Regions from separate parts of the Homo sapiens genome. Here all the other regions are linked to region 5. The links come from fine-mapping of genetic effects on gene expression. A gene starts in region 5. Each other region holds a variant in brackets. All regions are shown on one strand. Distances are between the middles of the regions.

Region 1 (4,000 bases), 25 kb after region 5:
AGCCCTACCACTGCCCAGGCAGGCCCAGGAAGTGTCCCAGCAGTGCCCAAGAAGGTCACCTCCACCTGTGGAATCCACAGTGTGGGTAGCCCCCAGGGAGCCACAGCCATCTAGGCCCAGATTCACAGGAGGATGCGGTTACTGCAAGCATCTGAACCTGGCCCCACCACCTATGGGCAGAGTTGGTTCCAGCTCAGTGTGTCCATGGGATATCTTTAGGTTCACCTTGCTTTTCTGTCCCATGCTCACATGTTGGAGCTAAGCTGCATGGAGTGTCCTTCTCCCTGTACGTATGAGATTAGTCAGCAGTCCTGTCTCCTTCCATATTCTGTCTTTATTTCTGCGACAGTATTTCTGGAGAACATTGTATTTGTGCTTTTCCTTTGATATGTTTGTAATTTTCGTTAGAAAAACCGTTATAGATTCTAAAGCTTCTACATTCAGTATTTCAATCAATGATAACAAACTGGTGTAAGACTAAATACAAAATACAAACATCAACACATTTCCATAAATTGCTGTTATAATGTCTGCCACAAAAAGTTCAGTTGTTTGTATGTTTTTCAAATGTGCTTTGCTTGTCTTGATGATTTACAACTGTTGGCACCGCTGTTTAAGTCTGTTCTGACAGTGAGAAAGTGACTCATTTGGCAAAGTCAGCTTTTTTTTTTTAATAAAAGTGAATACTGGTGAGTGGAAAGGGGCTTGTGTACAATTTTCTTGTCAAAGAACGATGACCGGCAAATAAGCAATTTTAGTTCCTTGGATTTGAGCACCACTCTCACATGCCTCCACCAACCAGCTTGTCTCCACAGAGCTTCCTTCCTCACTTTACACTGAAAATCTGTTATCAGTGTGTGGAAAATAAAAATTTTACACAGCGTTAGTTTTGAGGATGTGGATTACTATTTACAGGTGTTTTTTTAAAAAGTAAAAGGTGTTCCCATTGTTTAGTTATTGCCTTATGATTTGATTTTCTTGTTTCACGAAGAAGAAAAGCTTTTAATTAAATGTATTTAAATAGTAAAAATATACATGTCACTTCACCTGGTTCCAGTTAAATGTGTTAACAGTGTATTTGGTTGGTGCTTAATAAAAACATGTTCAGTGCAGTAATAATTAACTTCAGGTAAACCCTTATATAGGGAGTAAACAGAAATGTTGAGTGGTTACTCAGCATGGGGAAGGTATACAGCAAGTCATTGGTCAGTATTGGGTATCATCATATTCTTACCATCTTTTTTCTGGAGTTTTAATAGTTGTTTTTTAAAAAAATCTCTGTTTTAATAAGGCATTTTGATGTTTGAAACTACCTTGGATAAGTATATCAAGACCCTTCAGAGATTCTAAAACATGTTCAGCACTTTCTGGTACAATATTCTCAAAGAACCAGGATACATCTTATTTCTCAAAATGAAACAAAAATGTATTAGACATTACCCTTGTGATTTCAAGCCCACAGTCTGTCACTTTGAAGTATTTATATCCTTTTACAAAAGAAAAGCCAAATGAAGATCTCCCTGAAAAAATATTTTAATAGAATGTGTCTTTATTTCAGTAT[C/G]TTAAATAGTGAAGATGGAGAAATATTCAATAATGAAGAGCATGAATATGCATCGAAAAAAAGGAAAAAGGACCATTTTAGAAATGACACAAATACTCAAAGTAAGATCATTCTCATTAATTTTATTTTACTTGTTGATTACGTTGAAATACTAAATTACTCTGACAATGCTATCTTATGAAATAAAAGGTGATACAAATATGTAAATAACAGCCCAGTATCCAGCATTGCCTACAGATTTAGTGATCAAACTTTTTGCAGCTCAACCGTTTCAGTGGGTAAGATGTGCAAAAACAAAATAAGAGATAGCCAAACCCACAAAACAGCCCATGAATCTGAATGCTTGAATTATGGTCATGAATTCAGCTCAGTCTTGAGCAGTGAGGCCAAACTGAGAGGTGTCCTGACTTGAGTTTTGAAGTCACTGAAGATTCAGAGCAGGAGACAGACATTCAGAGCTGGAGTTTAGGATGTTAGATGGCAGCAGGGGAAGGCTGGAGGTGGGACCTATCTATGTGAGGGCATAGAGCTCTATCATGCAGCATATCTGTGAGTTACCAAGACACATGTTAATGTATAGTAGGCTCCCTTACCTCAGGGGATAGACCTCCAGTGGATGCCTGAAACTGTGGATACTACCAAACCTTATGGATACTATGGTTTTTTTTATGTATATACACACTTATAATAAAGTTTAATTTATAAATTAGGTGCAGTAAGAGATTAACGAGAATAATAAAATGAAACAGTTATAGCAAGATGGCCACCATCACTGCTCTTGCACTTTGGGGCCATTATGAAGTACAGTAAGGGTTCTTTAAATACAAGCACTGTGATATCTCAACAGGTGATCCGATAACCAAGACGGCTACTGAGTGACCAAGGGGCGGGTAGTGTAGGACTCGCTTGACAAAGGGAGGATTTGCATCCCAGGCAGGACAGAGCAGGACGGTGTGAGATTTCATGACACCACCCAGAATGGCACACAATTTAAAACTTATGAATGGTTTATTTCTGGAATTTTCCACTTAATGTTTTCAAACCAAACCTGACTGTGGGTAATTGAAACTGTAGAAGGTGAAACTGTGAATACGGGGGGACTACTTTATGAAGAAGATAGGGTCACATGGAGAATACAGTTAGTGTGATTCTTGAAACTTTTAAGATTTATCTGAAAAATTTGTTTCTATGGAGTACCATACACAGCAACAGAAGAATAGAACTTTTTATTAGGGTACATAGGAATGTAGTAATGTAATTGCATTTTATAATCATTTATGTCTTCATATGGCTTCAGTCATTAATAATACTAATTTTCTTCTAAGTTACTAGGACTTGGTACTGTCTGAAATCATTGTTCATATCTTAAACTGATTTAAGAAACAAAGCAATTCTGTTTGCATTCACCCACGTAAAAGCATTTCTTGTCAATATAGTAAGTCAGATAATTTTGTTAACATGTCCAATTATTTAAATTCCTTTAAAATCTTCATTTTGAAATGATTTGCCAGATTTTAAAAACAAAGGTAATTTTTATTCTAGGTTTTTATCGTGAAAAATGGATCTATGTCCATAAAGAAAGCACAAAGGAAGTAAGTATTCTATTATAAATATGAGAGTATCTTGTATTGTTTCTGTTGAATATGGAGTCACATTAAATAAATGTATTAATAAAGTTGCATAAAACACATTTCTTTTGCAATATCAGATCTATGGTTCACATTCTGACAGATAATAGCATATGAGGAGCTTTTGAGGCAGTGATTTTCCATTGTGTGTGCTTGCATGTGCATGTGGTATGTGGCTGTGTATTTGTGCACACATTTGTGTGTGTTGTGTGTATGGTGTATGTGTGTGGTATATATGGTGTGTATGTATGATTGTGCATGTATTTGTGCAGATACTGGTGTGTGGGATGTATGGTGTGTGGTGGCATGTGGTATATGTGTGCAGTGTGTGGTTCCTGCCTACCTGTACATATCTGAGTCTACAGCAGGGTTATTTAAACCAAGCATGGACTCCTGCAGTCATACGCATTTTCTCTGTGTTAGCATGAACCCCTGATGCTGATGGGAATGTGTCCTCCCTGTGGCGTGTTTTGGAGGGCAGGGCATCTGTGAGCCCTCTCATTCCACATAAAGAGTGGCTAACATGAAATTAGTAATTGGGTTGGGTTTGTGCAGAGCTGTGTGAACTCTTTCCCTGCCTTTCTTTTGCCAAGTTGGGCTAAAGCTTTTTCATGAGCCATAAAACAAACGAGAGAGCTTCAAGCTGTTTCCTGTTTCTTTACTAGGATCCGGGAAGTTGAGTTCCTTTTATAGGCCTAGAAACTCTGCATTTGCTTTATTTTGCAACAATTGGGGAAAATAATTTAGGGAATTACTGTCTATCGTATGTTATTTCAGGGTAAGTTAAATATTCCAGAAATGTTTGTAGATG
Region 2 (4,542 bases), 63 kb after region 5:
CCATGGTCTGGTGGTCCTGGTCTTGCAGGGGAACCGCTTTGCTAGTAGCATCCTGAACCAGCGGGGGAGAACAGCACAGGAGGGCAGCTGCTGAGGCTTGGGTCTGTGTTGGAAAGTGGCATTCACTGGCCTGGAGGAACAAGTGTCAGAGGTGGAGGCTGGCTTAAGGGCATGTGTGGAATTGACTTAATGTGCATTACTGAGCACAGAGCAGAGCCTTCGGATGTTAAATGAAGAACAAAGAACTTTCCCCAAAAAAATCTGTTATAAAGTTTTAATATAAACTGCACATGGAAATAGCATCTCTTCTTCAGTGAATAATTTTAAAGGTTATTTAGCACTGCAGCCTCATTAGTTGCCAAATTTGAAAGACTTAAAGGTAGAGATATGTTGTCTTAAGACTGTCTTCAAGTAGTTTGGGAATTTTTGGGTTATCTGATGAGAACTTGTTTGCTTTTAATAACCTTGTACTGTCCAAATTTAGTTACCTGATGTTTTTAGTTATTTTCGTAAATAATATGAATCAAACCTGAATGCTTAGATACACTCTGGCTCTTTCTAATCTTAACTTTTCCTTTTTTTCCCTCCCTTCACTGCATTCCTTCCTGATTCTTTCTTCATGATCTCGAAGGACTACCATCTTGCTTTACTATTCAAGGTACTTCCCTGTCTTGCCACACATCCTGTGTTCGGGATGAAAACGTTGCATCGTGCTGCATCTCATGCACGTCATCTTGGCCACTGCCCGGCTCGATTCCAGCTCTCGCTGACTTGAGCTTTCTCAGGACCCTGAGCAGGGCTGAGTGGCCACTTTGATCAAACACCTCAGCAAGGACGAGAGTGTTGATGAAATATTTTGCAGAACAACACCTGAGTGCTGAGGGAGGCTGCTAGATGTGCGCATAAACACTTCACCACACAGCACCTGGTTTGGCAGCACTGCCAGGGCATGCCATGGAGAGATCCAGCACTGACCCCAGAGCCTCTGGTCCCGTTTACCTGCGTTCCTCCTAAGAGTCTGCCAGTCTTCATCCACAAAATTAATTTTTCTGTCGTCACTTCTCATATTAAATATAATTCTGGATCCTTAGGTATGTGAGCATGGCCAGCTCCCTTGGAGCAAGCAGGAGCCTTGGGGGCTGAGGCCGTGTGTCCCCCTCTCCTGTCCTATGCAGGGAGCCCAAGCTGATTCAGGGATGAATGGCGGGTGGAGGGAACCCTGTGTAACAAAGTGAGCCAGGAACAGGAGGACAGGACAAAGGAATGGCTGGGACCAGAGGACAGAAAGTCCCCAGTGGTTTCTTCTGTGGCCTTGTAGATTCCGGGGCAGTGCAGGGTGGTGTCAGCAGCTGGCTCCTCTGACTCAGTACCAGATTCGGCACTGGAGGGCAGACCTGGGGCCACCGTCTCCTGCCCTACCTGAGCAGGAGTTCCATGGGAAACCTCTATGTAGAATCGGCTGCGGCTGCCCTTGTGTTGGTCATTCTCATCCAAGTTATCTCCCATGTACCTCTGAGGTGGGGCCCAGGGTCCACATCAACAAGCAGCTGACGACCCCTCAAGCACCATCACTAGAGTGTGGCTGGTGGTGGGGCCCCCTCCTAACCATCTCCCACCTCCCCACAGGACTCAGGACACCCCTGCACGGCGGCCGACCCTGACAGCTGCTTCACGCCTGTGTCTCCGCAGCACTTCATCGACCTCTTCAAGTTTTAAGGGCTGCCCCTGCCATCCCTATTGGAGATTGTGAATCCTGCTGTCTGTGCAGGGCTCATAGTGAGTGTTCTGTGAGGTGGGTGGAGACTCCTCGGAAGCCCCTGCTTCCAGAAAGCCTGGGAAGAACTGCCCTTCTGCAAAGGGGGGACTGCATGGTTGCATTTTCATCACTGAAAGTCAGAGGCCAA[G/C]GAAATCATTTCTACTTCTTTAAAAACTCCTTCTAAGCATATTAAAATGTGAAATTTTGCGTACTCTCTCTCTCTATATATATAGTTCAAAAATACTTTAGGTGGTCAGCTCCACATTCTTTGTTGACGTGACACTAACGGCCAATAATATGCTTCTTAATTATCAAATTATAGTTTCCCAATTGGGAAACTAATTGGGGGTGGGTTACAAAACATTTGATCCTTGTAAATACATTGTACAGAATATTTATTTTTTCTCAAAATGCATTTTAACTACTACATTGGCTGTGCCCAAATGAGTCCTCTTTGAATAGAAAGTGAACCCAGGGCAATGACAGCCATTCTTGTCTTAGGGATTATGGATCGGGGTATGAAGTGTGCACACGCAGCCCAACAACGGGCAGTGGTCTCTGTGCTCCTAGGCATCCAGCACAGGTTCTGGCAGGGCACCCCTGCTGGGGTTGGGGGCTGGTCTGTGCATAATCCTGGACTGTGATGGGAACAGCCCAGTGCAGTCTAAACTTCAATTGTGTTGAAACTACTTTAATAGACAAAGTAATAAATCATGTTTATCTATTGATTTAAACTTCATCAGTTTTGCATCCTACTGAGAAATGTTAGTGATTTTGATACTTAAATCCTTAAAAGATTGCTTCGTTTTTAAAATAACGCATGTCCATTTTAGAAAATTAGAAAATCAGTCCCACCACCCAAAGATTATTGTGCATGCTGAAAAGAGTATGAAAAATCCCCTCAGCAGGCATAGGATAGAAACGTATTGTTGTATATTTCCATTTTTGAATAGGGTCAAGGAGCCCAAGCAAATCATTTCTACTTTTTCCTTTAAGCATAATAATAAAAGTATACTTTTATGGCGTTATAAATAGGACTAAAAAAAGATTCTGGATTTTTCAGCCCCACTTCTGTGAACTGACACAAATGGCCAAGAATGCATTTATTTGTCAAATTATAGTTTCTCCTGAGGCGATGCAAATACCTGGGGCCTCTGCGAATATATGTTAGTTTTTCATAAGACCATAAATGTCCCGTATACCACTGTTACTTCACAACGCCCCCCGTCCCGACCCTGCCTTTTTTTAGAAACGTAGAACCATATCCTAAATGTTATTTGGAAACTTGGCTTTTATTAGCTCCACAGAATCACCCAGATGGAACAGGCTTTTTCATCACAACATATTGGGGTTCCTGAGTGTCTCGCCGTTAGCATCAATAACTATGATAAGCATCGTCACACAACAATGTGGCCGTCTCCTTACAACCACTGGTAGTACAGCCAACATCATGAGTCAAACATATTTTAAGGCTTTTAAATATATTTCTAGATTGTTCATGAAAAAAAATTTTTTTGGAGTTTGTTTTTGAGACAGGGTCTTGCTCTGTCACCCAGGCTGGAGTGCAGGGGTATGATGTCGGCTTACTGCAACCTCTGTCCCCCAGGCTCAAGTGATCCTCCCACCTCACCCTCCAGTGATCCTCCCACCTCAGCCTCCCAAGCAGTCAGGACCACAGGCATATACCACCATGCTCAGCTGTTTTTTTGTATTTTTAGTAGAGATGGGGTTTCACCATGTTGCCCAGGCTGGTCTCAGGAGTTTGAGCTCAAGCAATCCACCTGCCTCAGCTTCCCAAAGTGCTGGGATTACAGGCATGAGCCACCACGTCCAGCTGAGAAAAGAAATTGTTCTAATCTAGGAAAGGGAGTAAGTACATTGAGTTTCCATTATCCCTGAAGCACAGGTATTTCTTTTTCTGTTGGTGCTGTTTTAATAAGTGAAGAATTTGATGTATGATAAATTGTGAGCTTGAATATTTCCATATATTTATTATCCATTTGCTTTTCTTGTTTTTGGTAAATTACTTAATGTGGTATTTGCCTGTTTTTTGGGGTGGATGTCAGTCTTTTTTCATGTTAGTTTCTTCTTAAAAGGAAACTATCCTTTTGAAGTTGTGGTTCTTTCCCCTAATTTGTCATATACTGTTACTGTCATTTAATTGTTAGATGTTATAACAGTTCTCAGCTGTGCTATCAAATCACAGATGTGCATTTAACTTGTATAAATTGAGCAGTACTTGCTTGGAAAACATAACCATATTAATAGTGTAGGATTCCAGCTGTTCTGCTGGGCTGGCATATTTCCACAGGCCATGGACACAGCTAGCCGCATTGCCACTGCATGGGTCACAGCCTCCTGCAGGTGCGTTCGAGGGACAAGCTGTGGGAGCTGGGCAGGTAAGCAGGGATGGCTTACATTGCTGGGGAGAGATTGAAAGGTTAATGGAGGGTATAAGGACAGAATAAAGACAATTTTGAGGCACTGATCAGTTATTTACAGAAGATCGGACAACACCAAACAGAGATGAGAAGAGAAATCATAGATCTCCACTTTGGAATGGTATTTTTGAATACAGTTTCTATCAGGGGGCCTTCCAAAAGTAGGGATGCCACTCCTGTGAGATTAAGTTACATTCTGATGCCTTCATTACAATGAAGTAGATAATTCAGGACCCCAGGAGCCTAAAGCCAGGTAGTAAGTTTCACTTGCCCATCGCTCCTGTGAAAGGCAATGCCAGACACTCTCAAGATAGAATCTCCAGTCATTCTCGGACCTGTTCTCAG
Region 3 (4,570 bases), 730 kb after region 5:
TAGGTGATTACCTTCTTAACAAGCTACTTAAGCACTCCTGGGGCCAGCCAGATACCTGGCATTTTTCTGAAAAGAACTTTGGAATTTTCCTTTACTTCCATGCCTGGGGGTTTGCAGGCTCCTGAAAGTGGGGGGTTTCCAGTTCATTTCAACCTCTCTGCAGAAGATTATGATTAGAAAATCATCAAAAATAAATTCATCTTTCTGTAAAACCAGGAAGTTATCATAAAATTATATTGATCATTAATAGGAGTCATGAGAAATATATATGAATAAAAATATATATTTTTTGCTTTTAGAAGGGACTTAGAATGATAAGTAATAGATATGTCTTCTGGAAAACAATTAAGTCCAACTTTATCAGAAATAGATTTCTGAAACTGTGACTATTTTGACCAAATTATAAAGCTGGTTTGGAGTTAAGAAGGGCCTGGACACAAACACTTTGCTCACCAAGTCAAAATAAATATTATTCAGATTTTATTACAGCATAAATTCTAGTTTAGCCAGCATCACAAATGTGAGGAATTCATATTAATATTAATCATATGAATGTAAGCAATAGAATTAAGAGTAATCTAAAACCAGACTTTGATTTTTGGATTTCAGATAACACAGTAGTATTTAATTTGTAATGAACATCACTCAGTTGTTTTATACAATCATAAAATCCGTATTGGGAATTGATTAACCCTTTTTTTTTTTAAGTTCAGTGGTACAAGTGCAGGTTTGTTACATAGGTAAATGTGTGTCATGGGGGTTTGTGATACAAATTGTTTCCTTATCCAGATATTAAGCCCAGTACCCATTAGTTACTTTTCCTACTCCTCCCCCTCCTCCCCCCTCCACCTCCCACAGGCCCCTGTGGATGTTGGTCCCCTTTATGCATCCATGAGTTCTCATCATTTAGCTCCCACTTATAAGACAGAACATGTGGCATTTGTTTTCTCTCCATTAGTTCACTGAGGATAATGGCCTCCAGTTCCATCTGTGTTCCTGCCAAGGACATGATCTTGTTCTTTTTATGGCTGCATAGTATTCCATGGTATACATGTACCACATTTTCTTAATCCAGTCTACCATTGATGGCATTTAGGTTGATTCCATGTTTTTGCTCTTGTGAATAGTGCTGCAATGAACGTGCATGTGTCTTAGTGGTAGAACGATGTATATTCCTTTGGGTTTATACCCAGTCATGGGATTGCTTGGTGCAATGGTAGTTCTGTTTTTAGGTCTTTGAGGCATCACCACTCTGTCTTCCACAATGGTTGAGTAATTTACACTCCCACCAACAGTGTATAAGCAATTCCTTTTTTTCTGCCACCTTGTAAGCATGTGTTATTTTTTGAGTTTTAGTAATAGCCAGGAATTTGCATTAATTAATGATAGAACTTACATTAATCATATTAATAATGTAAGCAATGTAATCTAAAACATGATTTCAAATTGAATAAACTTGTATAAGTTCGTTTTCACACTGCTATAAAGAACTGCCTGAGAATGGGTAATTTATAAAGGAAAGAGGTTTAACTGACTCACAGTTCAGCAGGGCTGGGGAGGCCTCAGGAAACTTATTCATGGTGGAAGGAGAAGCAGGCCCATATTACGTGGCGGCAGGCGAGGGAGAGCATGTGAGAGCACAGAAAAAAACACCATTTATAATATAAACCAGATCTCCTGAGAACTCACTATCATGGGAACAGTGTGGGGGAGACCTCCCTCCGTGATCCAATCCCCTCCCGCCAGGTCTCTCCCTAAACACTTGGGGGTTACCATACAAGATGAGATTTGGGTGGGGATATCAATAGAATCAATATCAAACTCTATTGATTAAACTTTGAATATGATTTTTAGTGCTAAAGAGACTCCGATAAGATGATTCTATTCTTTATTTTCTATTTCCTCCATTCTTGTCACTGAAAGGTGTCCCTCCCCAAGGACTCTAACACCTTAACCTGTAAAGCTTTCTGGGATTTGACAGTTTTTTTGCTGCTATTGGTTACATAAAATTACAAGTATAGGCACTTACCCTATATAACATTGTGGGGTTTTTTGTTTTGTTTTTGCTTTTTAACAAATACATGTCAGTTAGTATTTTCCAAGCTGCCTAAGGAAAACCTTTGTCCCCAAATCCATTTTCAAGAATTAAAAAGCAGCTTCAGGACACAGTTTCATAAAAACAAAAGCAAAGCTAAGGACCCAGGCGGCTGTCTGAGTGCATCTCGTCTTAGGGGAAAGAGCCTTTGAGGGTGCGTCAGTGGAGAGGCGGAAATGGTTTTAGGAACCACGCAGAGATAGTTACTTAGAGATTTCTCACCTTGGATCCTAGAAGGGTTTTTTTGTGGGTTTTTTTTTTTTTTTTTTTTTTTTGTCCATATCTTAAGAAGCGCTAGACTCTGAAAAGGGGCATGCGGTCTTTCAGGAGACGGAGCGTGGCACACCTAAGGGGAACGACATTCTCAAGGTGATCCCTTCCT[C/T]ACTGCCTTGCGGCATGTCAGAAAGTGTGCTTTCCAGGAACTGCAGGTTGGGCGCTAAGCCTTCGTTTGAAAAAAGCCAAACCTCTCCATGGATCCCTAAGCTTACCGATGCAGAGGATGGCCACTTTTGTGGACAGTATGAGCTGGTGATATTTCTGGTAGAAAAACACGAAGGAGATGTTCATGATGACAAAACAATAGATCTCTGCTGAGCACGGGGGATTGGCAGGAATCATCGCAGGGAAGGTTGCCCGTCGTGTAATCACAAGCAATCATTTTTCGAAGTTAAGAAACGAGATTTAAACTGCTTTACAGTTTACCTCTTGGCCACAGAGCACAGAATCAATGAGCCAGATCCTCCAAAAATCAAACTTTATTCAAGTCAAGAAGCTCATTCTCTTCCTGTGCTTAAGATATTTTTCCCAACCTGCTCATGAAAAATTCACGCAAGGGATTTGAGATTCCCCTTGCCTTCCTCTTGCTTCCAGGGGAAGCTGCCAGGTAGAAGTAGTGAGGAATCTGGTATTGCACTGTCCCAAGGGGCGGGACACCTGCCTTTGAAGACCCCTGGGTTCTGCTCCCTTAGGCACATGAGTTGGGTTGACCTCACACCTGGCCTCAATTTCCAGCCCTCTCATTTACCAGCGAATAGACTTCAAACCTCGTAAAAAAAAACTCCCCTCCCATCAGCCATGAAGTGGGCTTGTAACTCAGATGCCCCGCAGCCTGTCCACAGCAGATGCTCGTGGGAGAGAAGGGAGTGGGAACACAGCTTCCCTGCAGCAGCAGATCTGGACAGCTCTCTGGCTCCCCATACAGGCCGGGGTGGATGCCCTCCTCATCGTCAGGCTGGCTCTGCATAATCAAAGCTTCCTTCGTGAGGGCCACGGCAGACAACGTGGCTAGCACCAAGTACGGTGCCTGGTGTGTAGACAACATAGGGCACTCAGATCTAGTGCCTGGTGCACAGCAGACCCATGACTCTGAACACATGACTATGCTCAGTAAAAACGTCTTTCTCTATGCTCTTCAAATTGAATGTGGATTCCCCCAGCTTCGTGCCTGAAGAGAGTGAGGAACCACCCGAAGCCAGCTCTTGAGGCTGGCAAACATGGAGGCCAGGGAGCAGGAGCACACGGGGCGTGTTGGTGGTGCAGGTGCGCCTAGAAGACCAGGCCTGGCTGCTCTCCAGAATGACCATTTTTAAATGTAGTGATCTTAAATGGTGAAGAGTAAATGCTCAGAACAAAGACATTTGATAGCACCTGTTGAGTGCTGGAGGTATTCTGTTTGTGCTGCTTCAACTTGTGTGTAGTATGTCTGAAAAACTGTAATCCTGCCTCTCAAGATGGTGCCCAGCCACTGTGCTAGCTCAGGCCATGATCCCAGAATGGCTCAAACAACAGGAACTTATGTTCTTGCAGTTCTGGAGGCTGGCAGTCGAGGACAAGGGGCCCATAGCCTGGTTGGTTTCTCCTGAGGCCTCTCTTCCCAGCTTGCAGCGTGGCCTCCTCCTTGTGGCCTCCTCCCTGTGTGCCGGGGCCTCCCCTCTGTGCATGAGTAGGGGAGAGCCCTGGCATCTGTTCCCCTTGTTACAAAGACACCAGTCCTATTGAATTAGGGTTCACTCAAAACCTCATTTAACCTGGATTGTTTCTTCCTAGGCCGTCTCCAAACTATAGTCCTATTGGACTGGTGCACCAAATATGGATTTGGGGTGTGCGTAATTCAGTCCATAGCACCCACCAAACCACAGAAGCTGCCCCGAGCTGATGTCCCGCTATCGGTGCGGCTGCAGGACACTGTCCCATTGCTGCATGGAGCCTCTCGCTGTCTGAGCCTCACCTGAAGCCGGCCCACACCATTTTCTTACTCTATGCATTGGAGCGAAAATGTTTAATTGACTACGATGGGTGATTCCTAAAGTTATATTTGACTCAGAAAAAAATGCATTAGTAAAACTCCCTGTTTGAATGTTTCTAGTATTCACAGCCCGGGTCACTGTCTTTCTATAACGATTGGTATCTGAAATAAGAACATGGGCTGCAACTTACAGCCTTGCTCTTTCTACTATATAAACTTCCCTAATCAAA
Region 4 (4,570 bases), 45 kb before region 5:
GGGCACTTTCATTATCTGTAGGCATTTCATTCTGTTCTCTACTCTCTATTTTCTTATATTAATTTTGTGCGGGATTTACCTTCAATACTTTTCTAATGTTAATTTTTATGTAAAATTGGATATCCTGAAGTTTTAGAAAAAGTGGGATTCAATGTAGATGTTTAAAACTTTATGAAGTCCCTCTTTGGTTGTTTTTATGTGATGTTAAAAAATATGGAAGTTTGGCCGGGCGCGGTGGCTCACGCCTGTAATCCCAGCACTTTGGGAGGCCGAGACGGGCGGATCACGAGGTCAGGAGATCGAGACCATCCTGGCTAACACGGTGAAACCCCGTCTCTACTAAAAATACAAAAATTAGCCGGGCATGGTGGCGCGTGCCTGTAGTCCCAGCTACACAGGAGGCTGAGGCAGGAGAATGGCGTGAACCCGGGAGGTGGAGCTTGCAGTGAGTCGAGATCGCGCCACTGCACTCCAGCCTGGGCGACAGAGCGAAACTCCGACTCAAAAAAAAAAAAAAAAAATATGGAAGTTTGATTTCTGAGATTTCTTCACTCTATTCCCTTCCTCCACTTTTATCTAGACCTTCTCTTCACTTGGTCTTCATTGTCCCTGCCCTTCATTTTTTTGTTTTACCTCATATATATATGTCTCAAAAAATATATATATATATAACCTCATATATATATATAACCTCATATATATATAACCTCATATATATATAACCTCATATATATATATAAAACCTCATATATATATATAAAACCTCATATATATATATATATATAAAACCTCATATATATATATATATATATATATATATATATATATATATTTTTTTTTTTTTTTTTTTTTTTTTTTTTTTTTTGAGACAGGGTCTCACTCTGTTGCCCAGGCTGGAGGACAGTTGCACAATCTTGGCTCACTGCAGCCTCCTCCCCCCAGGTTCGAGTTATTCTCCTGCCTCAGCCTCCTGGGTAGCTGGGATTACAGGCACATGCCACTATGCCTGGCTAATTTTTGTATTTTTAGTAGAGACAAGGTTTTGCCATGTTGGTTAGGCTGGTCTTGAACTGACCTCAACTGATCCATCCACCTCAGCCTCACAAAGTTCTGAGATTAAAGGCGTGAACCACTGTGCCCAGCCTACTCCCAATAATTTTTTTTCATTCATAGAAAGGAGCCTGGCTTATCAGAATTAAGAGTTCCCAGGAGTCAGAGGCCCCAGTCCCTCAGTCCTTTTTGACTCATCAACTACTGGATGAGTAAACCCCACATGTGTCAGTCACAGCACTCGGGTTGACCTGCCGTGCTTCCCCATGGCGACTCCTGCACATCTGGGGTCATGGATGCTTCCCATGGTGATGTCTGCACATCTGGGATTGTGGATGCATCCCATGGTGATGTCTGCACATCTAGGGTCATGGATGCTTCCCCGTGACAATGTCTGCACATCTGGGGTCATGGATGCTTCCCCACGGCAATGTCTGCACATCTGGGGTTGTAGATGCTTCCCCGTGGCAATGTCTGCACATCTGGGATTGTGGATGCTTCCCCGTGGCAATGTCTGCACATCTGGGATTGTGGATGCTTCCCCGTGGCAATGTCTGCACATCTGGGATCGTGGATGCTTCCCATGGTGATGTCTGCACATCTGGGGTCATGGATGCTTCCCCGTGGCAATGTCTGCACATCTGGGGTCATGGGTGCTTCCCCATGGCAATGTCTGCACATCTGGGGTCGTGGATGCTTCCCATGGTGATGTCTGCACATCTGGGGTCATGGATGCTTCCCCGTGGCAATGTCTGCACTTCTGGGGTCATGGATGCTTCCCCGTGGCAATGTCTGCACATCTGGGGTCGTGGATGCTTCCCCGTGGCAATGTCTGCACATCTGGGATTGTGGATGCTTCCCCGTGGCAATGTCTGCACATCTGGGATTGTGGATGCTTCCCCGTGGCAATGTCTGCACATCTGGGATTGTCGATGCTTCCCCGTGGCAATGTCTGCACATCTGGGATTGTCGATGCTTCCCAGTGGCAATGTCTGCACATCTGGGATTGTCGATGCTTCCCTGTGGCAATGGCTGCACATCTGGGATCGTGGATGCTTCCCCGTGCTCCATGTGAGCCTCTGCTTCCTCTTACACAGAGACCAACATCATGCGTTCTGAAGGATTTTGGTTTAACCTCATCCGAATATAGTTTAGGGTCTTTAGTCACTTAGTTTTATTAATGATGTTTTGGGTTTTGCTACCTAGTTGAGATTCAAAAATGCACTGTCTCTCCCAGCTTCCAAGAATCCTGCAGGTTTGAAAACTTTAAAAGATCATAGAATTTTTATTCTGCTTATCTTAAATCAAATCCACTTAATTTGAACAGCTTTAAAAGTTTTTTTCACAAACTGGGAAAGAACCCTGTGCCAATGGGGCAAGTGGACGTCAGCTACTACCCTATACCATTGTCCCACAACGCACATAGGCCAGCACAGTGTACCACAGCTCCAAGCTGATCTACATTAAGAGGAAGAGAAGAGGCCCATTGCCTTCCCTGAGCATCTAAAAAGTCTCTTGTGACATAGTGAGTTTTTGCCAAACCTGATTTTCAGAGGTAACCTGACCCCTCGTAACTCACCCTTACAGAGTCACCATTTAAAGCACAAGTGCTGACGGCATCATGACCT[C/G]CAGTTCCTCCTGCATCAGAGATGGCTGTGAGGATTATCATGGGTGGGCTGGGTGCAACCATCTCATGCAATGGTAACAGTTCCTGACTCAGGTGCTGAGAGCGTGTTGTTTCTCGCCATCCATACATCATGGTAACAGTGTTCATGCTGCCACCCACCTCATCACCTCCTAAGGCAGGTGTCGTTCCTGCATTCCAAGCACATGCCTCAAACTACCCAATTTGTGCTACCTTGGACAGCTGGTACTGCCTCCTATTTAGTCATTCTCATTTATTACTCGACACTATCACTCACTGGTACCATCTTATTAGGAGAATGAGAATGAATCCAGGTTACAATTTCTGCTAAGACTTGGTGAGTTTTTTCCTGACTTTGTTAATGGACTTCCTGTCAACATTCTACCATTTGCTAAAAGAAATGTGGAAGGAAAATACAGTCATGAAAATCTCAAAGTTGTGACTTTCCACATCAATGTCAGCCTTTGCTGTGAAGTACGGTAGAAACCTAGAGTCAGAAAGAACCTTGGAAAGCATCTACACTGTGTTTCAAGTCTCTTCTTCTGTAGATGAGAGGAAAAAACTACCAGGGAGGTAAAGCTCCTCTTCTAATTTCAGGCAAAAGTAGGGCAGAGGCCAGACCTGTTGTCCAGTGTCCTGAACACTGGCAAGGAGCTATTTCTCAGGGTTGGCAGGCACGCTTAACAGCTCCTCCTGCACACCCCACAGCTTCAGTGGAATACTTTCAGGAGACATTTAACCCTTTCAGGCCATGGAATTATCACATGAACAATGCAATGAAAAGAGGAATAGAGTCTATGAGTGACACATGAAGAGCTAGTAGAATACTGAAAGTGAACTAGTGACGATGTCATATTTAAACTGAAGGTTCTCATAGAAGAATAAAAAAGAATTAAGATTAGTACAAGTAATAAAATCACCATTTCTATTCAAAGACAGAAATGTTAAAATAAGGAAGTGTGGCAGAATTTGCCAAATTCAATAGCGTCAAAAAATAAAATCTTTTTGAATCAAAGATTCTTGTGATCAACTTCAAAAATCAATTCAGAGGATTGATTGCCTCCCAAAGCACAAAATGAACATATTAAGCTGATCCTGCAGCTATAAACTGCTATACGTATAAAGATGCACTTAATCCCCGAATCCTTGGGTGACTGAGTTTAAACGTACATTAAAAGCCATGAACAATACTCCATGGGGAAGCTTAGAATTCTTCGTTGAAATTTCTCAACTCTAACTCTTCATGTCATGCCCCATATGCGGTTAGACTGACTAAATCTATAGTTATCTGTCACCATGATGCTGTTTTTAATTGAAATATTTGTGTAGTTAGGATTCACTGACCCAAATCTAGAACTGCCAGGGAGAAAGTCGCCAAGTCAAAAACGAGTGTCACCCACGGTCCAGGTCACCCACGGTCCAGGTCACACACGGTCCAGGTCACCCACGGTCCAGGTCACGCACGGTCCAGGTCACCCACGGTCCAGGTCACCCACGGTCCAGGTCACACACGGTCCAGGTCACCCACGGTCCAGGTCACGCACGGTCCAGGTCACCCACGGTCCAGGTCACGCACGGTCCAGGTAACTCAAGGTCCAGGTCAAGCACGGTCCAGGTCACGCAGGGCACTTGCACCTCCTGGCCCTGCTCCGCCATCTTACAGGAATTCAGTCCCCCAAAACACATGAAGGCAAACACCCAAGTCATGTGTATGTCTCCAGAGAAAACAGCAAGGCCGTGAAGTCACACTGTGGATTCTCCTGCCCCGTCCACGGCAGCCACTCTTGACCTGCCTCATGATCGTCTACATCAACACCAGGCCCTGACTCAGTTTCAGTTTTCCCGTTTCTGCCCCTTGAACTTGGCCTTGACCCT
Region 5 (4,570 bases):
GCCAAAAAATCTCTGTGGTTAGGGAGGCACCTCCCTACTGGTCACTAATTCCCCCTGCCGAGCCTTCTGCCCGGGCAACTGCTCCACAATCTCCAGCTGCACCATGTGTTTTGAAAAGCATTTCTCCCCGCCCCTCTGGGGTTTTTCTCCTCCTCCAGTGGTGAAATTCCCGAGGGCACTGAGTGGGTTACTCTTCACAAGCACAGAGCTAAGCCCAGTCCTGGTAGAAAGGACACACAAAGAAGACCCAAGACCATGAATATGCTCTTGACATTACTCTGTGGGCTCTGCTGTTACTCTGTGGGTTCTGACGTTACTCTGTGGGCTCTGCTGTTACTCTGTGGGTTCTGACGTTACTTTGTGGGCTCTGCTGTTACTCTTTGGGCTCTGCTATCACACTATGGGTTCTGATGTTACTCTGTGGGTGCCTGCTATTATTCTGTGGGTCCTGCTGTTACTCTGTGGGCTCTGATGTTACACTGTGGGTTCTGCTGTTACTCTGTGGATCTCTCTGTGGTTACTCTCTGAATTCCTGCTCTTACTCTGTGGACTTCTTTTGTTGCTTTGTGAGTTTCTGCAGTTTGTTTACCTCTTTACCATCCATCCAGGAATTCTTTCACTAGGAATTGTGAGGATGCTAGCCAATTGGGCTAAATTTAATATTACTATGTCCCCCATTGTGGTGGTGGGGTCTTGGCTTGGCAATTTCTACTAGTATTCCATATGCAGTTAACCTTGACACATCAGTGAAAGAAAAATAAAATTTCAGGCCTCCAAACTTACTATGCCAAAGGGAAAAGTTAATATTGGCAAAACACACACACACACACACACACACACACACACACACACACGCAGTCTTCTTTTTGTTCCCAAAAGCTTACTTTATCTTATGTGAAATGTAGATCTACTGAGTATGAGACAGATGCATAACCCTCCCCCATACCTTTCTTTTCACATGTGAAATGTAGATTTGCTGTACTCTAATCAGAGCCTCACAAAAATGTGACCACTTGCCTCATAGCCTACTCTCCCCTCTTTCCCCTCCTACCGGCGCTTTTCCCTTAAATATTTGGAAAAAAGTACAGGCCAAAAATCCTACTGTAACCTGTGTTTCTTTTTCCCCAGACACGTCCACGATTTTGGCAGAATAAACCTCTAAATCAGTTGTGATCTGCCTCAGACACTTTTTGCTTTACACAACAATCCAATCATAGCGATTTATTTGGAAATATACCTTCACAAGTTAAATCAGACCACAGCGCTACTGGGCATTATTTATAATGGCAAACTATTGCAAACAATTTAAAACCTATCATAGACATCATAGAAACTATTCTAATAAATTGATACATTTATATAATAGAATAATCCGCAACCTTGAAGGGAATGAAGGAAGGAATAAAGAGAGAGGGAAAGGAAGAAAAGAACGGAGAGAGGGAAGGAGGGACAGACAGGTGTTTAAATTGGGGATGTGCAAGCAATATTGCCTACTTCATTGCCTTCACATTATTTAAAAGCATGTGGTCAAGAAACACTATTATAATAAGCACTTCAGAAATAACTTCTAAAATTACTTTTCCAAAATATGAATCCATACTATACACTTCCTGTAATGTGCACCACATGTAGATGCACACATTTTAACAAGGAAAAGACTAATACTCATATTTGCTTGCTACACACCAGACACTGTTTTAAATGTTTTGCACACGCTAACTCATTTGTTCTTATGGAAATCCTGTAGCGTGCACCGCCACCTCCATGTTTCTAGGCGGAAACTGAGGCACGGGGGCTGCGGCTCCTGGACCCACCTGGCCTTCTCGGCCTGCCTCTCTCCCTCCAGCCGCCCCACATTCTTTTTTCCTAATTGGAAAAAACTATTCACGCTGCTCCTCCAGGGCATTTCAACCTTCTAGAAAGATTCGACAAGATTCGAAACTGTTTATAAAGAGAACGTGCTTGTGCCCGAATGCTGAGTGTGAGCGCGCAGTGATGCCCTAGAGTGCAGTCATCCCGGGCTTGGCGCCCAGCGGGTGGAAATACGGCCGCAGGGTGGAAATGCGGCGGCGGGGCTGCCCAGGCTCCTGTGGGACCCGCGCGGCGCGGGCACGCACATTCTCAGGGACGCGCGTCCTCAGGCCACGAGAACACCTGAAGGCCCCGGCCAGCGTCCTCCCGTGAAGACCCGGACCGGCGTCGTCACCCGCCGCGCAGGCCTAAATCTCAGGTCTTCACCGTCATCTCCCAGCGATCGCAGGGATCTCAGGCACTGACCGCGCCCGTCCCTGCGCACCCGAGCCCCACCCCACGCCCCCACGCCCCCACGCCTCCACGCCCGGCACTCTGGACGCGCGCGGACGGAGGGGCAGTGCCTACTACGCAGGCGCACGCTGCGGGCGACAGGACCAGGCAGCAACATTGCCACGCGGATCCGCGCCGGCCAATCAGCATGGCCAGGGGCGGGGCTTCCCTGAGGCGCGCCGGGAGGCGGCGGCCCACTTCCGGCAATAACCGCCTGGTCGCCGTCAGGTGCGGGCCCAGGTGGCCGGCGCGCCCGTTGGGCACTGGGGGACGCGGGCGCGTCAGGTGAAGACTGGGGGCCGCAGGCGCGCTAGGTAGGTGCGGGGTGCAGCGGGCGCGTCAGGTGAAGACTTGGCGCCGCAGGCGCGTTAGGTGAAGATTGGGGCTCGCGGGCGCGTCAGGTGGGGACGACGGGCCACGGGCGAGTCAGGTGAAGACCGGGGGCGGCGGGCGCGTCAGGGGAAGACATGGGGTCGCGAGCGCGTCAGGTGGGGACGGGGCCTGTGGGAGGGTCAGGTGGGGACCGGGGGCCTCGGGCGCGTCAGGTGGGGACGGGGTTGTCGCGGGCGCGTCAGGTGGGGACGGGATTGCCGCGTGCGCGTCTGCTGAAGTCTGGGTCCGCGGGCGCGTCAGGTAGGGACGATGGGCCGCGGGCGCGTCAGGTGGGGTCTGGGGGCGGCCGGCGGGTGTGGAGGGTTCATTCAGGGAGCTGCGGGCGAGTCGGGTGGGCACGGGGGCCGCCCACAGGTGCACCGCGCGTCCTCAGCCGCTTCCCCTGCCCACCTTCTGCGACCCCTTCCCGCCCCCACCCTCCTGGGCCGTCTTGCAGGCCCGAGCTTGTGTCCGCCTCGCTGGGCAAGGTGTTTCGGGGACGACTCCTGCCGGCGTTTGCCCTCCGGGCTCGGTCCTTGCCTCTTCGCCGGTGGGCACCTGCTAGGTGTGACCCCTCATTCCTCCAGGCCACTCTGCCCCGTCTGCTGCTTACCTTTTTTTCCCTACTCCTGGTCTGTGGCTCTGGCTCTGTCTCTGTCTCCTCCCTTAATTTCTTTCCATGCTTATTTTTCTTGCAGCAGACACTAATTTTGCATCCTTCCCCTCACAGTAAGCTCAATTTGACCTTTTTCTCAATTAGATTCCACCTCTGTCCTTGGGCCTATTCAAACTCATTTTGAAGACTAAAGAATCTAGAGAACCATTTCTTCCCTTATGAAGCTGTCTCTTGCTGCCTCCAAATCCTTACCATCCGGCCCTAATCAGAAAAGACGTTTACTCTTTCATATTCTGTTTTCTCCTCGTCTTTACGTGTTTACCTTTCCCATGAGGAATCTGTGATTATCTGTAAGTCCTTAGAGTACAACTTATTTCTGACTCTCAGCCCTCAGTTTGCCATTTTTTAAAATGTCCTTTCTGGATCAAATTTGTCCACACTTATAAGCAAAACAAATAGGGAAACACATGTGGTCTTTTAAGATGGATTGGAGTTTTCTTTCCTGTGTTGTATTCCTTGTTTTAGTGCCTTTGTATTTAGGTTCATCATTACTTGAAATCATATTAGTGATCTGTAATAGACGGTAAAAAAAAAAAAAGTTAAAAAGCTTATAATTTAATGGCATCTGTTTTAATAGGGTTTTCAGGAACTGCTATTATAAACATAGTGGTTAGGAGCATGGATCCTGGAGTGAGACTCCATCATTTTGAATCCCAGCTCCACTGAACTCTTTGCCTCAGTGTCTTCATCTTTAAAATACATAATGAAACTTGTAAAACAAGAATAATGTTTTCTACCTTGGAGGACAGTGTGAGGATTAAATGAGACAACATATGTAGATTGTTTAGAGTAATGCGTAGCCTATGGTAAGCTCTAATAAATGTTTGCCATTATTATTGTTAAGAAAAAATATGCTTGTTGAAGGAAAGACATTTTTTTTTGTTCTGAGTCTCTCATGCCAAGAGTTTCCACCAGCAAATGAACTTCATGAAGTCCTTTTCTACTGAAGTATCCCACCCACGTGTCCTACCACATGAAATAGAAATTAAGGGAAGATTTTAAATAGTTAATCATTGTAGGCTGTCTGAAATAAGTTGGCATAAAATGTGCTTAAAATTTGCAAATTATACAAGCTACACCCTTTGAGTGCTTGCTCTTAAAAGTTTAATAATTTTCAGGAGTAATTTCTAGTTTTTTTGTGTTTGTAAATTCCCAAAATAAAGGTAATTTTAATTAAAATAAGCGTATAAAGCTCTAGCAATTCACATTTTTTAGCTG
Region 6 (4,570 bases), 71 kb after region 5:
CTTGTTATTGTATAGAAATATCATGGATTTGTTGTGTTGATTTTGTAAACTGCAGTGTTACTGAAATTTTTTTTTGTATATGTATGGACACTAGGATTTTCTACATATAAGATCATGTCATCTGCAAACAGATAATTTTGCTTCTTCCTTTCCAGTCTGGATGCCTTTTATTTCTTTTTCTTGCCTAACTGCTCTAAGACTCCAGTACTGTGTTAAACAGAAGTGGTGAGACAGGGTATTTCTGTGTTGTTCTTGATCTTAAAGTCCTTTCAGTCTTATTGAATATGATGTTTACAGTGGGATGTTCATATGGCCTCTATTTTAGGTTGTTTCCTTCTATTCCCAATTGTTGAGTTTTTATCATGAAAGGGCATGACATTGTCTCAAATGCTTTTTCTCCATCAATGGAGATCACATTTTTTTCCTTCATTCTATTAATGTAATAGACATTACATTTATTGACTTGAGCATGTTGAAACATCTTTGCATACCAGCTGTAAATCTTACTTGGCCATGATGTGTAATCCTTTCAATGTCCCACTGAATCCTGTTGGCCAGTATTTTGTTGAATATTGATTTAAAAAAATCTTGATCAGGAATACTGATGTGTGGTGTTTTTTTCTTATAGTGTCTTTGTCTGGTTTTGGTATCAGAATAATGATGGCCTCATAGAATGCATTTGGAAGTGTCCTTTCCTCTTCAGTTTTTTGGAAGAGTTTGAGGAGAATTGATTTAATTCTTCAGATGTTTGCCAGAATTCCCATATGACCCTGGGCTTTTCTTTCTTGGGAGGCTTTTCTTTACTACTTCATGCTCTTGACTAGCATAGGTCTGTTCAGATTTTCCATTTCTTCATGATTCAATCTTGATAGGCTGTGTGTTTCTAAGAATTTGTCCAGTTCATCTAGGTTATCCAATTCTTTGATATGTAATTGCTCATAGTACTCTTAATCCTTTTTATTTCTGTAAAATCAGTTGTAATGTCTCCTCCTGGTTTTTAGTTGTTTTTCTTAGTCACTCTTAGCTATCAACAAACTCTTGGTTTCATTTATTTTTCTCTATTGCTTTTCTGTTCTCTATTTTGTCTCTGCTCTAATCTTTATTATTATTATAATCATCTCCATTCTGCTGGCTTTGGGTTGATTGCTCTTCTTTTTCTAGTTCTTTCAGATGTAAATTTAGGGTTGACTTGAGATCTTAATTTGTTTAATAGGTGTATTTACAGTTACAAATTTCCCTCCTACCACTGCTTTGACTGTACCTGTTTTTTTGTATATTACATTTTTCATTTACCACAAGATATTTTCTAATTTCCCTTGTGAGTTCCCCATTAATCTGCTGGTTGAGAGCGTTGTTTAATTTTCACATAATTGTGTACTTTTCAGTTTTTTGTCTGTTACTGATTTCTAGTTTCATCCCACTGTGGCCAGAAAAGATATTTTATTTCCTCAGTCTTTTGAAATTTGTTGACTTGTTTAGTCATCTAACATACTGTCTATCCTAGAGAAAGGTCCATTTGCACTTGAGAAAAACGTGTGTACTGCTGTTGTGTCTGTTAGGTCCAGCTGGTATGATGCTGTTCAAGTTCTGTCTTGCGACTGATCTTCTGTCTGGTTGTCCTATCCGTTACTGAAAGTGGGCTACTGCAGTCTCCTACTCTTACTGTAGAACTATCCATTTCTTCCTTTGATTCTGTCAATGTTTGTTTCATATATTTTGGGCTCTGATGTTTGGTGCATATATATTACATCTTGGTGAATTTTCAAACTTTTTAAATTTCAACATGAAGATGAAATTATAGGATGTCTGGGATTTCCTTTGAATCCGTGGGGCTGGGAGTAACTATAAATGAAACAAGATTGGCCGGGAATTTGAGGCTGCAAGGATAGGTACACACAGGGGAGTGAAGCAGGGCTTGGAGCAGATGGTAAAGATTGTTGGCTTTTCCAGCCATGGGGCTCTCTTGCCACTTGGCAGTAGTGGCATGAAGCCGCCACCAGGGGGCCACGCACCAGTGCATGTGGCTGTGTTCCAAACTTTTTGGACAATAAAATCTGAATTTCACATACTTTTCTTATGTCATTAGATATTACCCTTTTACATCTTTTCACTATTTAAAAATGTAAAAATCATTCTTAACATTTGGGCTGTGCAAAAACAGCTGGTGGGCCCAATTTTGGCCTGTATTTCACTTGCCAACCTGATTTATACTTTTGTATCTATTTGACATTTTCCATTAAAAGTTATATAACACTACTTTTTTGTACTCGTTACTTTTT[A/T]AAAAAAACTTTCTACAATGAAAATACATTATTTTTACAATAAAAAGCCAAAATACATACACAAAAATGTTACCCATTAATTATGGGAATTACTTCAAGGTAATTCTTATTTTGAAATATCTTTCCAATATTTTCTCTTATATCGCTTTTTGAAGACGCATAACATGATCCCAAATAAACAGTTGAATAAACACCACCCTCCTCTCCCCTCCTGCCCAGAAACCCACCCATCTGGAGCTGCATCTCCCAGGAAAGGAGACTCTAGAGGGAACCGCCTTCTTGCATTTCTCTAGCCTGGATTCCCATGGGAAAGATGTGTATCTTCATGCTGAGCTTTGAAGATTCTTACAGAATAAAAATTCTTACCATATCCTTCTGTCTTAATAGCACGTTTTAAAGTCTCTAGGGAGAAGAGATTTCTGTAAACACTAGTTTCCAAAGAATAAAAAAAAAAATCACTTCTCAAAACTCAAATGGTATTTCCCATCACCCCCACACCATCCAGATTTGTTCAGCTTTCTTGAAAATAAATTATCTAAATTTTTAAAAATATTTTCCTAAAACTCTAAACAGAAGTAACGTCAAAGGGATCAATAGCCTCACTTCTTATGAAAGCTAAAACTCTACCCCTTTATCAAAAGCTAAAACTCTACCCCTTTATCAGTAAGTAAGTGAAAATATCTTTGCAACTCTGAAAAACCATGCTGGGACATTAATTTCTAAATACTTAAATGGCGGCCAGGTGCAGTCCCTCACACCTGTAATCCCAGCACTTGGGGAGGTCGAGGCCAGAGATTGCTTGAGCGAGCCCAGGAGTTCAAGACCAGCCTAGGCAATATAGCAAGACCTCGTCGCTACAAAAAAAAAAAAAAAAAAAAAAAGAAAAAGGAAAAAAGCCAGGCATGGTGGCACACGTGTAGTCCCAGTTACTCAGCAGGCAGAGGTGGAGGCTGCAGTGAGCTGTGTTTGTGCCACTGTACTCCTGACTGGGCAACAGTGTGAGACCCTGTCTCAAAAAATACATAAATATTTAAGTATCCACCCGAACTGACAGCCTTATAGTACCGGGGTGGGGGGCGGTCACTGTTACTGTCAGACACACTTGAAAAAGATGAAACCACTCACTGGTAAGATAACAGTTGGTCACCAAAAGGCAAAGATGCCAGCATGATGATGATAAGCTTCAAACATAATCAGAAACCCAGTGGATGGAGATTTGCCATGAAACAGCAGGTCTTGGAGATACAGTAACCAAAACTTAGAGAATGGAATACCTCATAAAGGTGACATGCCCTTCAGTGGTGATGAAACCAGTCTTTGAATCAGAGAAAGGCACAAAGGAAAGCAGCATGTTCCCAAGGCACACATGCCAGGAGAAAACAAGCCCACCAGCAGGAGGCCTGCCTTTAACACTCACCTGCTGGTGTGAGAGCAGACGAGGCTGCAGCCACATCAACCCTGGCTCTCCTATGTAACATTCACTCAGGACTGCCCGTGCCCCTCCAACGGGCTCAGCGCCATTCATGTTGCTTATCTGTTAACCTCTTCCCCAAACCCTGCTCTTCCAGCAGACGGCGCACACACTGTGCCACACGTGTGGCTGAAAGGATAGCCATGCGTGGGGATAGCCGGAGGTGCGGTCGCTCCCCAATTACTACATTTTCCCTCTAAAAACTTAAGTGTCACATTTCAAAACACCAGCTTCTTTAGCAAACCGGTTTTTCTGTACATAACCCAGACAGGCACCTCTCTGGGGCCCCCATGTCTACACAGAGTTGGGCACTGCCCTGGACTCTCATCTACCTGATGGACAGCTGGTGCAACTTTATCAGCTGTCAGCCTTAAATGAAGAGGCTCAGAAAATACGGGGAAGTGTCTAGCACATTCAAGCACACATTTTGAGGATGGCCACCTGGGGGATGGGCTCTACACAAACAGGGTCAGCGTTCCACAGTGGAAAGTTAAGGCTTCACTCATATAGGCAGGAGCCGAGATATCGCAGAGTCTTGCCGTTTTCCACAGACCAGTGTGTGCGCTATGGCAATATGACCCATTACAGATGGCTGCACTCCACAAAGTGAGGAGCAGTGATCTCAGGGGCCTCATCTCTGATGCATTTGGTCGTTTATAGGGAAAGAAAGGCAGAGGTTGCAGCTGTATGCTCCGTGGCTCCAGCTGCATAGCTGCATTCCTTCCAAGACTCAATATTTTTTGAGTGCTTTTTTAAATTTTAGTTTCAGGGGGCACATGTGCCCCTTTGCTACATGGGTATGTTGCATGGTGTGGGGTCT
Region 7 (4,570 bases), 50 kb before region 5:
AGAAATTTCTCATTGAGAGACTATCTAAACAGTGAACAGTGACCAAACACAAGTCCTCTGCTAGGGTAGGAACAGCCGCACAATCACAATCTGAGAATGTCTTGAAACATGCACACACAAGGGACTCTACCGCCAGACCTCACCACCACCCAGGCCATCCCCATCACCAGCTCTCCCGCCAGTGGCTCCGCTAGTCCAGGCGGAGCACAGGACTCTAGTTTAATAAGCTCCTCAGGTGACTATGCTGCATCATGCCAACCTAAACATCAAAAAGAGAGAGTCTGTCTTAAAACAAAACAAAACAAAACAAAACAAAGGCATGTACTGGGGAATAGGGGATTTCAATGGGAATATGTGCGCCATGGTAAACTATGTGAGGATTCAGGCAGGCAAACAAAGAGAAAGGTTTTTAGAGAAAAAAAAATGAGGATTATGTCATTGTTTTGAGAGAATTATCCTTGGCTCTGGATCCTAGGATCAATAACAAGGGTGACGTCAGTCCGAGGTTGGACAGGCCTGCTGGGCAGATGTCCTCAAGGAAGTATTTTTTGTGTAAGGTTGTGATGTCCTATGAGCAAGCGTGGGTTTGCAGTCTCCTGTGACAGTTTTTGTTGTTGGGTGAACAAGCCTCAGGATGCACTCTCCGTGGCCTTCCCTGCTCCAGTTGCCAGGGTTTTTTTGGTTTTGTTTTTGTTTTTGCTTTTAATAAAAGTGATTCCATTTTGATTCTGACAACTTTCAGAGTTATCAGGTTTGGAAAATACTGCTCGACATTGTCCTGGAATCCATACCACAAAAGACAGAATTCTTTTTTTTTTTTTTAAATTGGAATTAGAGTTCTCAATATCACTTCCCTGGTAGAGTTGGTCAAAATGCCACCCTCCAGATGCCTCATTTGACTAGTTTTTGGCTGCTATGCTGTTAATATTTTAATTAGTGAACCAGGTTGGACTTATTCTCAGAGTGTTTCAAGAGTAGGTAAAACATGTTCATTCTCTTGCTGAAAGTAAACACATATTGTTGGAAGGTAAATGAGATGTTTCCATAGGTTTCTATTTGCACATATGAAACTAAGCAAGTTATTTTTTTTTCTTTGAGACAGAATCTCACTCTGCAGTCCAGGCTGGAGTGCAGTGGTACAGATCATAGCTTACTACTAAGCAATCCTCCCACCTCAGCCTCCCGAGTAGCTGGGACCACAGGTGCACACCACTATGCCCAACTAATTTATATATATATATACACACACACACACACACACACAATGCTGGGATTACAGGTGTGAGCCACCACGCTGGGATGCAGATGATTCTTTTCAGAGCCTTTCTCCAGCAACCGACCACGTTAGTCAGTCAAACCTGGAGTTAAGGTATTTATAGCCCTGAAAATAAAGAACTAGAGACTTTCCTACTCAAAAACCTAGCGCCCAGCTTTCTCTCCCTGTTTCCAATGAGCACAGGCTGTAATGCATTCACAGGAGGGAATGCCATCTCATTTGCTTTCTATTTGTTTGAATAAATCTACTTGCAGTAGCTTTTATACTTTTGGTGAAACAAAGGTTGACTTTTTGAAAAAAAATGCTATTTTCAAGTCCAGATCACGTCCCATACACAGAGTATTCAATGTCAGAATAATTATGTCCTAGGAAGAAATTTATATGAAACATGAGTCACTGTTTAAATTAGGGAAGTTGGCAAATTAATAAAAGTGAGTGTTCCAGGAGAAACCTTCTGCAAATTATTCACAGTTGCTGCCAAATCCCTTGCCAACGTGTTTGAGACTGAGTACCATTAAAAATCGTGCTTTTAATACACACGTTATACAAGGCCTGCACCTCAGTCACTGTGGAGTGTGGGTGGTTGGCCAGGGATGGGGGCTGGGGAGAAAAGCTGACTTCCAATCTCATTAAATAACTGAAATGAGGTATCCATGTGCTTTCCAACTGCGAGAACAACAGTGTAATTAAGCAGAGTGTGAATGCACTGAAAGCAGGTGAATCACTTCATATTTCACAACGGTGAGGTGGGATTTGCTCACAGCTAGAGGCACAGAGGCTACCTGGGTCCATCTGCAGATCAGCCAGTTCTCTTATGGCAACAACTTTCCCAGTGAATCTTTGCATTGTTTGCTTCTGTCAGATGACTGGAGGTCTCCTGAAGAACAATTGTCAAAAACATGTTAATTCCTTGAGGCAACCTTTAGAAGGCATTGGAAGCATCAGAAAGCAGCCTGAGCCCACAAATCCACAAACAAGCATCCCTCTCAGGCAAAGGCCACTCCGCCTGTCAACACCGAGAAGGAGGGAGGCCATTCAGTCACAGTGAAAGAAGCCGGACCCGGGGAGATGCTGATTACAATGCACACGTCAAGTCGCTCTGTTTGACCAGCACGATACATAAATTGTAAGCTATTTGAAAGCAAACTTCTTTTTAAAATTTTTTTTATTTCCATAGGTTTTCGGGGAACAGGTGGTATTCGGTTGCATGATTAAGTTCTTTAGTGGTGGTTAATGAGATTCTGGTGTACCCATCACCCGAGCAACATA[T/C]ACTGAACCCAATCAGTAGGTCTTTTATCCCTCACTCCCCCTCCCACCCTTTCCCCCTGAGTCCTCAAAGTCCATTGTGTTATTCTTAAGGCTTTGCAGACTCATAGCTTAGCTCCCACTTATGAGTGAGAACATAAGATGTTTGGTTTTCCATTCCTGAGTTACTTCACTTAAAATAATGGTCTCTACCTCCATCCAGGTTGCTATGAATGCCATTATTTTGTTCCTTTTTTTGGCTGATTAGTATTCAATGGTCTATATATACCACAGTTTCTTTATTATCCACTCATTGATTGATGGGCATTTGGGTTGGTTTCATATTTTTGCAATTGCGAATTGTGCTGCTGTAAATGTGTGTGCAAGCATCTTTTTCAAATGGCTTCTTTCCTCTGGGTAGATGCTCAGGAGTGGGATTGCTGGGTCAAACCGTAGTTCTACTTTTGGTTCTTTAAGGGATCTTCACACTGTTTTCCATAGTGGTTGTACTAGTTTACATTCCCACCACCAGTGTAGAAGTGTTCCCTTTTTACTGCATCCGTGCCAACATCTACTATCCAGAATCTACAACAAACTCAAACAAATTAGCAAGAAAAAAGCAAACAATCCCATCAAAAAGTAGGCTAAGGACATGAATTGATAGTTCTCAAAAGATACACAAATGGCCAACAAACATAGGAAAAAATGCTCAACATTACTAATGATCAGGGAAATGCAAATCAAAACCATAGTGCGATACCACCTTACTCCTGCAAGAATGACCATAAGCAAAAAATCAAAAAACAATAGAAGGTAAAGTTCTTGAAAGCATTCTGGCTTTAAAGACCTCTGACAGTGTGTGCAGGTGGGGAGAGGAGGGAGGTTTGCCCCCAGGAAGTCGGCTTGCCGCCTTTCTTCTCCTTGCTGATCTGGCTTGACCCTGGTCTGACTTTGCTCCGCGGTTGCTCTCTGCTGCAAGTCACCACAGCCCCTCCCATCCCACCCCACAGATGCTAGCTTTTGGCTCAAGCCTGGGCCAACATCCATTCCTTCCTGCTAAGGCCCACAGCAGCTGCATCCCAGCCAGCGCCGACCCAAAGAGGATGACACACTCGATTTTAAAGGCAAAAGGAAACTTCAAGGAAAATGTGTTTCAAGTCCTAACAGAGAAAGAGGAACAGAGTCATTAGTCCAAATGAACTCAGCTGCAGGGTTGTAGGCTCCAACATTAATTCCAAATGTCCTATCTTCCATCTGGTCGAATGCTGATCTATTGCAGCACTGATCTTCCCTTGAATTCAACTATCTTTTAGGTTTTTAAAACTCTTTAATTTTGAATAAATCACAGGTACAAAATAACACCCAAAAGTTTAATGATTTCCTGTAAGGATAACACTGGCAGTGACACCGGCCGCCCCTCCACAGTCCCATCCCAGCCTCAACACCCTCCTTCTCTCTGGAAGGTGACCACTGACTCCCAAGGTAATTGTTCCCTTGTGGATGTTTTTTCTTTCAATTTTTTTTTTTTTTTTTTTTTTTTTTTTTTTTTTTTTTTGCAGACAGAGTCTTGCTCAGTCGCCCAGACTGGAGTGCAGTGGCGCGATCTCTCCTCACTGCAAGCTCCGCCTCCCGGGTTCACGCCATTCTCCTGCCTCAGCCTTCTGAGTAGCTGGGACTACAGGCGCCCCGCCACCACGCCCGGCTAATTTTTTGTGTTTTTAGTAGAGACGGGGTTTCACCGTGTTGCCCAGGCTGGTCTTGAACTCCTGGGCCTCAGCTGATCCACCCGCCTCAGCTTCCCAAAGTGCTGGGATTACAGGTGTGAGCCACTGCGCCTGGCCCATCCCCCACTTTTTATCATTGTAGTTCGTCACATTGTCAGAGCACATAGCACATATATGATGTTCTCTTTCTTTCAATCCTCATTTATCTTAGTTTTACAAAGAACTATACCTTCAATTTTTACCACCAATACTTAAGTTGATGTGTCTCTCATTCTTCTGGTTGTCTTGAAATGAGTTGTCAAAGATTCCTCTAAATGTGTTCCTG

Which allele goes with the higher level. Alleles are on the strand shown, and positions count from the first base shown. SD is a standard deviation of normalised expression in the study named. Not every link is listed here.
For the expression in testis of the gene that starts at base 2,510 in region 5, G is the low allele of the variant in region 1 and C is the other (small effect, 0.25 SD a copy in GTEx).
With allele G in place of C in region 4, the expression in Th2 cells of the gene that starts at base 2,510 in region 5 is higher (large effect, 0.79 SD a copy in Schmiedel 2018).

The links.
Region 1: its variant is fine-mapped to the expression of FBXO25 in testis (GTEx, PIP above 0.99).
Region 2: its variant is fine-mapped to the expression of FBXO25 in whole blood (INTERVAL, PIP above 0.99).
Region 3: its variant is fine-mapped to the expression of FBXO25 in fibroblasts (GTEx, PIP above 0.99).
Region 4: its variant is fine-mapped to the expression of FBXO25 in Th2 cells (Schmiedel 2018, PIP 0.95).
Region 6: its variant is fine-mapped to the expression of FBXO25 in whole blood (TOPMed, PIP above 0.99).
Region 7: its variant is fine-mapped to the expression of FBXO25 in whole blood (INTERVAL, PIP above 0.99).

Annotation. Positions count from the first base shown.
Region 1 is chr8:429,783-433,782 of GRCh38, forward strand. It overlaps FBXO25 (F-box protein 25), which reads left to right. Exons shown (of 10, transcript NM_183420.2): 3 at 1,559-1,662; 4 at 3,104-3,153. Among named protein-coding and RNA genes, the nearest start is that of FBXO25, 25 kb to the left of the region's middle. The variant C/G (reference allele first, on the strand shown) is at 1,562.
Region 2 is chr8:467,089-471,630 of GRCh38, forward strand. FBXO25 (F-box protein 25) reads left to right here. Exons shown (of 10, transcript NM_183420.2): 10 at 1,627-4,542. The coding sequence ends at 1,716. Among named protein-coding and RNA genes, the nearest start is that of FBXO25, 62 kb to the left of the region's middle. The variant G/C (reference allele first, on the strand shown) is at 1,905.
Region 3 is chr8:1,133,158-1,137,727 of GRCh38, forward strand. All of the region lies in intron 2 of DLGAP2 (DLG associated protein 2), which reads left to right. Among named protein-coding and RNA genes, the nearest start is that of DLGAP2, 400 kb to the left of the region's middle. RefSeq lists an enhancer at 1-318 and a silencer at 1-146. The variant C/T (reference allele first, on the strand shown) is at 2,478.
Region 4 is chr8:359,802-364,371 of GRCh38, forward strand. No RefSeq gene overlaps it. Among named protein-coding and RNA genes, the nearest start is that of FAM87A, 21 kb to the right of the region's middle. The variant C/G (reference allele first, on the strand shown) is at 2,679.
Region 5 is chr8:404,449-409,018 of GRCh38, forward strand. FBXO25 (F-box protein 25) reads left to right here and starts at 2,510. Exons shown (of 10, transcript NM_183420.2): 1 at 2,510-2,618. RefSeq lists an enhancer at 72-131 and a silencer at 2,233-2,642.
Region 6 is chr8:475,712-480,281 of GRCh38, forward strand. It overlaps FBXO25 (F-box protein 25), which reads left to right. Exons shown (of 10, transcript NM_183420.2): 10 at 1-2,256. Among named protein-coding and RNA genes, the nearest start is that of TDRP, 67 kb to the right of the region's middle. RefSeq lists enhancers at 3,336-3,837, 3,838-4,337. The variant A/T (reference allele first, on the strand shown) is at 2,280.
Region 7 is chr8:354,359-358,928 of GRCh38, forward strand. No RefSeq gene overlaps it. Among named protein-coding and RNA genes, the nearest start is that of FAM87A, 27 kb to the right of the region's middle. The variant T/C (reference allele first, on the strand shown) is at 2,546.